Homo sapiens: one gene and its partner. The protein of the gene in region 1 purifies or fractionates together with the protein of each later gene. This does not show direct contact. Each region holds a gene or a part of one and is shown on either strand. Other genes may lie near its edges.

Evidence for each region.
Region 2: the proteins of SULT4A1 (region 1) and DPH1 purify together in Homo sapiens (affinity purification with mass spectrometry, with the first as the bait; one large-scale study listed by BioGRID). This does not show direct contact.

The regions. Positions count from the first base shown.
Region 1 is NC_000022.11:43,824,413-43,828,218, reverse strand, and holds the end of SULT4A1 (sulfotransferase 4A1), read left to right. Parts: intron 1-578; coding exon of another isoform or gene 579-619; exon of another isoform or gene 620-705; intron 706-2,105; coding exon 2,106-2,218; 3' UTR 2,219-3,710; downstream 3,711-3,806. UniProt on the Homo sapiens protein: Atypical sulfotransferase family member with very low affinity for 3'-phospho-5'-adenylyl sulfate (PAPS) and very low catalytic activity towards L-triiodothyronine, thyroxine, estrone, p-nitrophenol, 2-naphthylamine, and 2-beta-naphthol.
Region 2 is NC_000017.11:2,033,125-2,036,930, forward strand, and holds part of DPH1 (2-(3-amino-3-carboxypropyl)histidine synthase subunit 1), read left to right. Parts: intron 1-380; coding exon 381-533; intron 534-654; coding exon 655-718; intron 719-2,845; coding exon 2,846-2,967; intron 2,968-3,404; coding exon 3,405-3,562; intron 3,563-3,710; coding exon 3,711-3,806. UniProt on the Homo sapiens protein: Catalyzes the first step of diphthamide biosynthesis, a post-translational modification of histidine which occurs in elongation factor 2.

The DNA of each region.
Region 1 (3,806 bases):
CTGGGTTGAGAATGTTTGCAGGGAGGGCCCAGAAACGTGGATGGCTCTGTTCAGCAGCAGCCCCACAAGATGGAGTGGGAGATGCCTGGGGCGGATGAGAGACGCGCTGGGCTCCAGCTCAGCTCTGCTGCCCTCTGGGAACGCAACATAGGTCAGGCCTTCAGCTTCTGCGGCTTTTTGTTCTTCTCTGAAAAGGGGCTGATCACGGCTAAGGGCGGTTTGAAGGTCAAGTGCAAAGTGCCGTCTCTTATAAAGGCAGAGCAGTGGACTCCTCAGGAGGAAGTGAACTGAACCACAGTCCCTCTCGACTTCTTTCCTGGCTGCATTTTCATAAATATTTGTTATTTAACATTTATTTGCTCTTTTTTAGTTTTGCTTTTGCTGTGTTTTGTTATCCTTGGATGTGACCTTCTCCAAAATACCCCTTTTGGTTCACGTGTGTGTGTGTGTGTGTGTGTGTGTGGTGAAGCAGCGTCGAGAACATACTGTGTGCCCATATGCTCCTTCCCTTGGGTTTGCTTTATCATGGTTTACCTTGGTTTTGCTTTATTTCAGTTCTTTGATTTGTTTTCTTTTAGCACATTGCGTCTTTGCTCGGAAGATCTTCTTGAGTTGGTGAGAATGCAGGGCCGAGTAGCCAGCTGCATTGCTTAGATTTGATTCATGTCACAGCATAAATTGTCTTGATTCCAAATCCTAAACCAGGTGGGTGACTCCTCTGACGAGCTCTCAGCTGTCTCAGCTGAGAAAAATAATCATGGAAAAATAGTTTGGTTGCTCTAGCAGCTTCTAATTTTGCCCCTTAGGTATCATTAAAGGGTTACAAGAATAATTTTTCTTGTTTTTCTCTCCAACACTGATAATTTTTTGTTACCAAAGAGAAAGTCCGTGTTACGTTGGGTATTTTAGCTCAGCATTTGCAGGGTTGCAGTTTGAAAAACCTGAGGTCCTGCCTGGACAAGGACCGCTGTTAATAACGGAGCTAGTGAAGGACATTTGCTGGAGACAGAGCTCTGATCTCAGAGAGCTGACAATGGAAAGAATTCTAAACGAGCAGTTCTTCAAAAGCAGGGAGGCAGTACTCGGGTGATGTGCTCACAGCTCCCATAACTGGGAAGTTTGGAATCCCCGCCCCAGACATCTTCACGGTCACCGTTGCTATTGGACTAGACCAACCTAAGATTTTATATTAACAAAGACAATGGGAGCAACAACTTCTCTTGTCATGTTGAGCTGTCTTTCGTTTTTCCAAAGCCTTCATAAACCAGCGTAGACCGGTGCCTGCAGTTTATCCCACAGCTCAGCCCTCCCTTGTGGCTGCCAGGAAGAGGTCTGGGTTTCTGACTAAGCCTGGGCTAGAGCAGCTGGGGGCTGTGCCCAGACTCATTTTATTGTTGACTCAGGGAATTCTCACTGCAGTGCATGTTTTGCATCTAGTCTGTAAAGCTAGCTAATGCTGCGACTATTTGATTCACTTTAAATTCCTCCCCAGGGTTTGCCAGGGCAGGCTTCTTGAAATCTGCATCTTTGGCCCAGTCAGGAGGGCTTCCTACTTAGTGTAAAATTTTCTGCACTTTGAATGATTTTTTTTTCCTTTTCAAATTCTCCCGAAGCCAATGACGCCTTGGTGGCACTGTTGAGCTGTGAGTGGATAATGGCGTGGGAAGGGCCAGGGCTGCCTGTGATGCCCAGAGCAGTGCACTCCCGCGGCAGATCATACTCGCTCCTGGGATGTTTATTAAACACCTGCCACGTGCCAGGTGCCGTTCTAGGTGCTGGGGACCCAGCACTGAACAGGAGTAGAGTCTCCCTGGTGGGCCCCAGCGGGGGGTGTGGAATGGCACCAGGAGGTGGTTGTGGCTCACTGTGCCACAGCCTCAGAGGGAAGCTGGTTCAGGTCATGTTCTGCCGCATCCAGTAGTTTCACAAATGTTAGGGGACCACCTGGTCTGTAGCTCAGACGGCCCTTCCTGCCCCCATAGGCCAAGTTCAAAGGGATCCAGGAATAGATCTGGAATGTTCCAGATCCATTTCCAAGGCTTCCTTTAGTTCAGTAGCTGGCCGGACAGCAAGTGGCCCCAGCAGTTCTCTTGTTTGCGTTTCAGGAAGAGTTGGGCTGTGGAAGGACATCTTCACCGTCTCCATGAATGAGAAGTTTGACTTGGTGTATAAACAGAAGATGGGAAAGTGTGACCTCACGTTTGACTTTTATTTATAATAACAGAAACAACAACCTGCATGCTCACAATACCCAGACAGTCTACTAGCCAAAAGTCCTGTATGCATTCATTTATTCCTTGCTGGACAAACTCTGGAAGCAGCGTGTGAAACAGCGGGGGAAGGGAAGAGCGGCGTGAGCGGAGGGAGTGTGATGATTCCCAACCGAAAGCAGCTGTCTCGCCTTTAGAACGTGCAGCCTCTCCATGTCTGATTACAAACAGTCTCCACATTGCAGTTCCAATGGCCTGGACCGTAAGGATAAAGCCTGTAATATATGCAACTAGAATGTCTGCCTTTTCAACCCCGTATTATTGTATTTTATAGAGCTTTTCACTGGAAATCTACATAAATGTCAGTAAACCAAATAAAAGTTCATTTCCAAGGGGAATCAGGAGCGAGCCACACCCGAATGGTAGAAAGATCTCAGGGTTAACTCTTTATTTTTGTAGTTTTATTATCTAAGGCACAGCCATTCTGTTCTCACTTGGTTCTGAGATAGTGGTGAGAACAGAGGATGAGTTGGGTCTGTTGGGGGGAATCTGGACACTTGTTTATTCTGACGGAGTTCACTTCTTCAGAACCTTCCTGAAATGAGCAGAAATTGTTCACTAGGTCTTCAGAATGGACGTCCTTCTGCCAGAGACTTCCAGCGGGCGGCTCCAAAGGCCCAATGCAGAGGAGCCCGCGGAGCATGTGCTGAGGGAAGTCTGCCTGGTGAGGCTGGCAGGTGGGAGTCTAATGCAGTCAGGAGCATTTGCATGCAGTGGGTGGAGAGTCGGCCACCAAAGGACCGAGTTGCGCTCGGAATTTGAGCTGAATTCCACAGCCTTACTTTGTTTCCTGAAGTGATAGCCTACTAATGCTGGCAAGCAGATGCTTAATAGTAAATTTCTAAAATCCCCGGGTCTTTATCATTCAGTTTGTTCTGTGCACCTGAGGCGCTCAGCCGTGGGAGGACCATTTTGCGAGTGTAGCCCTGTTTCACTCGGATCAGGTTGGCACGGCCGCCTGCGTGTCTGTCCACCTCATCCCTCCGTGTATCTGAGGGAGTAAAGGTGAGGTCTTTATTGCTTCACTGCCTAATTTTCTCACCCACATTCGCTGAAGCGATGGAGAGTCGGGGGCCAGTAGCCAGCCAACCCCGTGGGGACCGGGGTTGTCTGTCATTTATGTGGCTGGAAAGCACCCAAAGTGGTGGTCAGGAGGGTCGCTGCTGTGGAAGGGGTCTCCGTTCTTGGTGCTGTATTTGAAACGGGTGTAGAGAGAAGCTTGTGTTTTTGTTTGTAATGGGGAGAAGCGTGGCCAGGCAGGTGGCACGTGGCATCGCATGGTGGGCTCGGCAGCACCTTGCCTGTGTTTCTGTGAGGGAGGCTGCTTTCTGTGAAATTTCATTTATATTTTTCTATTTTTAGTACTGTATGGATGTTACTGAGCACTACACATGATCCTTCTGTGCTTGCTTGCATCTTTAATAAAGACATGTTCCCGGCGTTGCGTCGAGCGTTTCTGCTTGTGGGGGTAGAGGGGTCCCTGCAGCGGTGCTGTCGGTGCTTGGGACAATATGACTGTGGGCCCCGTTGACACCC
Region 2 (3,806 bases), on another chromosome or scaffold:
CAGTCTGTCTGAGGTCTTACATGACAGCAATTAGTTGGCATTTTTCACCTGGTGGGGGGGTGGGTGTCCTGGTTTCTGAAAAACAACTTAGGGATATATGTCAAGGTGTTATGTGTAGTTTCTATAGGGAACCAGGCATCTCGTGACTCTGACTTGGGTGACTGTTGTTTATTATCTTCTTGTTTAGCAAGTTATTTAATTCCCTAATTGCTGGTTGTAGGGCTAGCTAAGATGCCTGGGATTTTTCTTGAGATGACTCAAAATTTTTATTTCTATGCTTGAGCGGGGGCACCGGCAGGCCCTGAAAAGGGATCCCTATTCCATCTCAATCTGGCTTCAGCCAAAGACAGACACCAACTCAGGCCTTATATCCATTCTAGGTCGGGCCCCTCGGGGCCGCGTGGCCAATCAGATCCCCCCTGAGATCCTGAAGAACCCTCAGCTGCAGGCAGCAATCCGGGTCCTGCCTTCCAACTACAACTTTGAGATCCCCAAGACCATCTGGAGGATCCAACAAGCCCAGGCCAAGAAGGGTGAGCCTGTGATCATTGAGCTGGGGTTGGGGTGGAGAGGTTGCCTGGCCCAGATGGGACAGTGTCCCCCTTGCAGCCCCTTCCTAGCCCTCCACCTCTCATGTCTCTGCTCGTCTTGCAGTGGCCTTGCAAATGCCGGAAGGCCTCCTCCTCTTTGCCTGTACCATTGTGGATATCTTGGAAAGGTGAGGCTTGGGGCACTGGAGAGGAGGGTGAGCCAGGCTTCCCCCACCCCCTATGCTCATTACCCGGGTGGGTAAAGCCCTGGTGGCGGGCATTTTTTCCTTCTGAACCTCCACCTTCCCCCTTTCCCTCCCACAACCATACACACACTCAGGGAAAACCCAAAACAAATCTCCCAGCTTGCTGAGAGCCCTGCTTGTCCCTGCAAATCCCCCCTCCCCTAAACATTTGGGACAGAGAAAGAAATCAATCCCAGTGTCTTCAAAGCTAGACCCAGAGCAGGTGGTAGGACCTGGGGAGGACCCTAAGAATTCTCCAAGCTGCCCCTGAAATGCGCTGAGTGATCAGTGGGAGGTCTGCCGGTCGGGGGCGGTGGGGGGCACCTGTTCCTCGGGCACATTTGGGGAAGTAGGGCAAGGATGGGTTTGGAGTGGGAGGTGCCTGGGAGAAGGTATTCAGTTCCTCTACATCCTACCCCTGTCACTCTAAGTTTCTGCAATACAATGAGCCATCCTTGGTGGGGAGGGTGAGAGCTCAGCCATCTGGAACCAGCACAGGAACAGGGGAGGGGAACGAAGAAAGGGGAGGTCATCTCATGCTGGGAACCTCCCACTCCCCTGCTGCCCCATCGCCCTCCCCTGCTCCTCCCTCCCCCTCCCCTTCTCCCCCATCCCCCTCCCCTGCTCCCCCATCCCCTGCTGCCCCATCCCCCTCCCCTGCTGCCACCCTCCCTCCCCTGCTCCCCCAAACCTCTCTTCTCCCCCCTTCCCCTCCCCTGCTCCCCCTCTCTCCCCTCCCCTTCCCCCTCCCCTGCTCCCCCTCCCCTCCCCTGCTCCCCATCCCCCTCCCCAGTTTCCCCATCCCCTCCCCTGCTGCCCCATTCCCCTCCCCTACTCCCCCTTCCCCCTCCCCTGCTCCCCCCTCCCCTGCTGCCCCCTCCCCTCCTCCCCCACTCCCCTGCTGCCCCATCCCCCTCCCCTGCTGCTGCCCCATCCCCCTCCCCTGCTGCTGCCCTCCCTCCCCTGCTGCCCCATCTTGTTGCCACAGACTCACTTCCCTGCTCCCACCGTCTTGCCCCTTGGGGATGCTCTCTGGGGCTCAGGCCAATTTGCATACATTTTAATCTATAAAAAATTAAGTGCTGTGGCTGACTTAGACGCCTGGGCTGCATTCTAAGGAGGTGAATAATCTGCTTCTGGGCACAGCCTGATTTGGGGAAGGGGGTGGAGGAGGGGGTGACTAGCAGGAGCTCAACTCTTCCACTGCCACACCCCCAGGGGAAGGATGGGGGGACCCCAGTCACTGAGCCAGGCTCCACGCCCCAAGTGTGAGTCTCTTTCAAGGAAGAGGGGGTTCTCCTCCATTCCTAGGGTGAGTTCAGGGGTACAAGGTCTTCCCCACCCACCCCCTCCCCCAGTGATTCAGGCCTGGCAGCAGTTCCCACGGCAGTGTTCTGGCCAGAGCCTCCTCTTCCTGATGCAGGAGGCGTGTAGGTGGTGCCATGTGCTATGGGGGAGCTGTGCCTGGGTCCCCCCATCCTGGGCACCAAGGGCCCTGCCTGCGGTGGGGAGGTAGTGGGGGTCCGGACGAGAGGGCCCTGCCTGTGGTGGGGAGGTAGTGGGGGTCCGGGTGAGGGGGCCCTGCCTGTGGTGGGGAGGGGGTGGGGGCCCTGCCTGTGGTGGGGAGGGAGTGGGGGTCCCGGCAAGAGGGAGGCTGTGTGTATTCATACAGCCACGCCCATGCCCACCACAGCACTCAGCGCGGGAGTGAGGACCTTTGGGTGTGTGTGCGTGCTCACGGCTCTGGGTGGGTGAGTCAGGGCATGGGGCGTCTGTGTTTTGACCCCACGTGTGCCGGAGTGAGGGTTGGGGTCCCTCCTGCAGCCTGAGCCTGGGTAGAGGAATGAGGGTCCTCACGCAGCAACAGTTCCAGGAGCGGCTGCCAGGCTGGGGCAGGCGGCAGCTGTGCCCCTCCTAATCTTTGTTGGCAGAAGTGGCAGCTGCCATCCCGAGGAACTGGGAGAGGTAGGGAGAGAGGAGCTGGGCCCTGAGACACCCTCCCAGGGTTGGGTCTCTCCTACCTCAGTCCCTGTGTCCCTGTCCCACCGTTCCCCGCCCCTGTGCCCGCAGGTTCACGGAGGCCGAAGTGATGGTGATGGGTGACGTGACCTACGGGGCTTGCTGTGTGGATGACTTCACAGCGAGGGCCCTGGGAGCTGACTTCTTGGTGCACTACGGCCACAGTTGCCTGAGTATGGTGGGGCCAGGACACCTGGACGGTGGCGGGGCTGGCAGGGAGGCAGGCTGCACATTCATCTTCCCCATGGCAGTGCCTTCTTGTCCTGCTTGGAGACACAAGGTCCCTCCTGGTTTCTGGGGTGGCCTCTGCCTTCCCGCTCTGCAGGTAGATCTTTCCTTTGGATTTGGTTGCCTTGGCAACGGTGCTCTGTCCCAGATGCAGGTGTTTGAAAGGCTGTTGGTTGTAGAGCAGGCTGGGCCCCGGCCGGGTGACAGAGAAGTCTGATTGAGAAGGAGCTTCTAGGGGATCTGTGACCCCCCTCTTCTCCTACCCTGTCCTTTTACCCCCAGGCTGAAGCCACTGCGCCTGGCTGCTCAGAGACCTGAGCCTGGCCGGGCCCTCTGCTGCTCCTGCCTTCCCAAACAGCCCCTGAACTCCTCCCTCCCACAGTTCCCATGGACACCTCGGCCCAAGACTTCCGGGTGCTGTACGTCTTTGTGGACATCCGGATAGACACTACACACCTCCTGGACTCTCTCCGCCTCACCTTTCCCCCAGCCACTGCCCTTGCCCTGGTCAGCACCATTCAGTTTGTGTCGACCTTGCAGGTGGGTGGAACGAGGATCCTCGGCCTCCTGCAGGGTGGACAGCGGCCACTCTCCAGCTGTTGCGGGATCCCCAGGTGCTCCAGGCTGTTTCTCAGCCCTGGCTCTCCTGCCCCAGCCGCTGGCTTCACTTCCCTCGTCATTCCTACAGGCAGCCGCCCAGGAGCTGAAAGCCGAGTATCGTGTGAGTGTCCCACAGTGCAAGCCCCTGTCCCCTGGAGAGATCCTGGGCTGCACATCCCCCCGA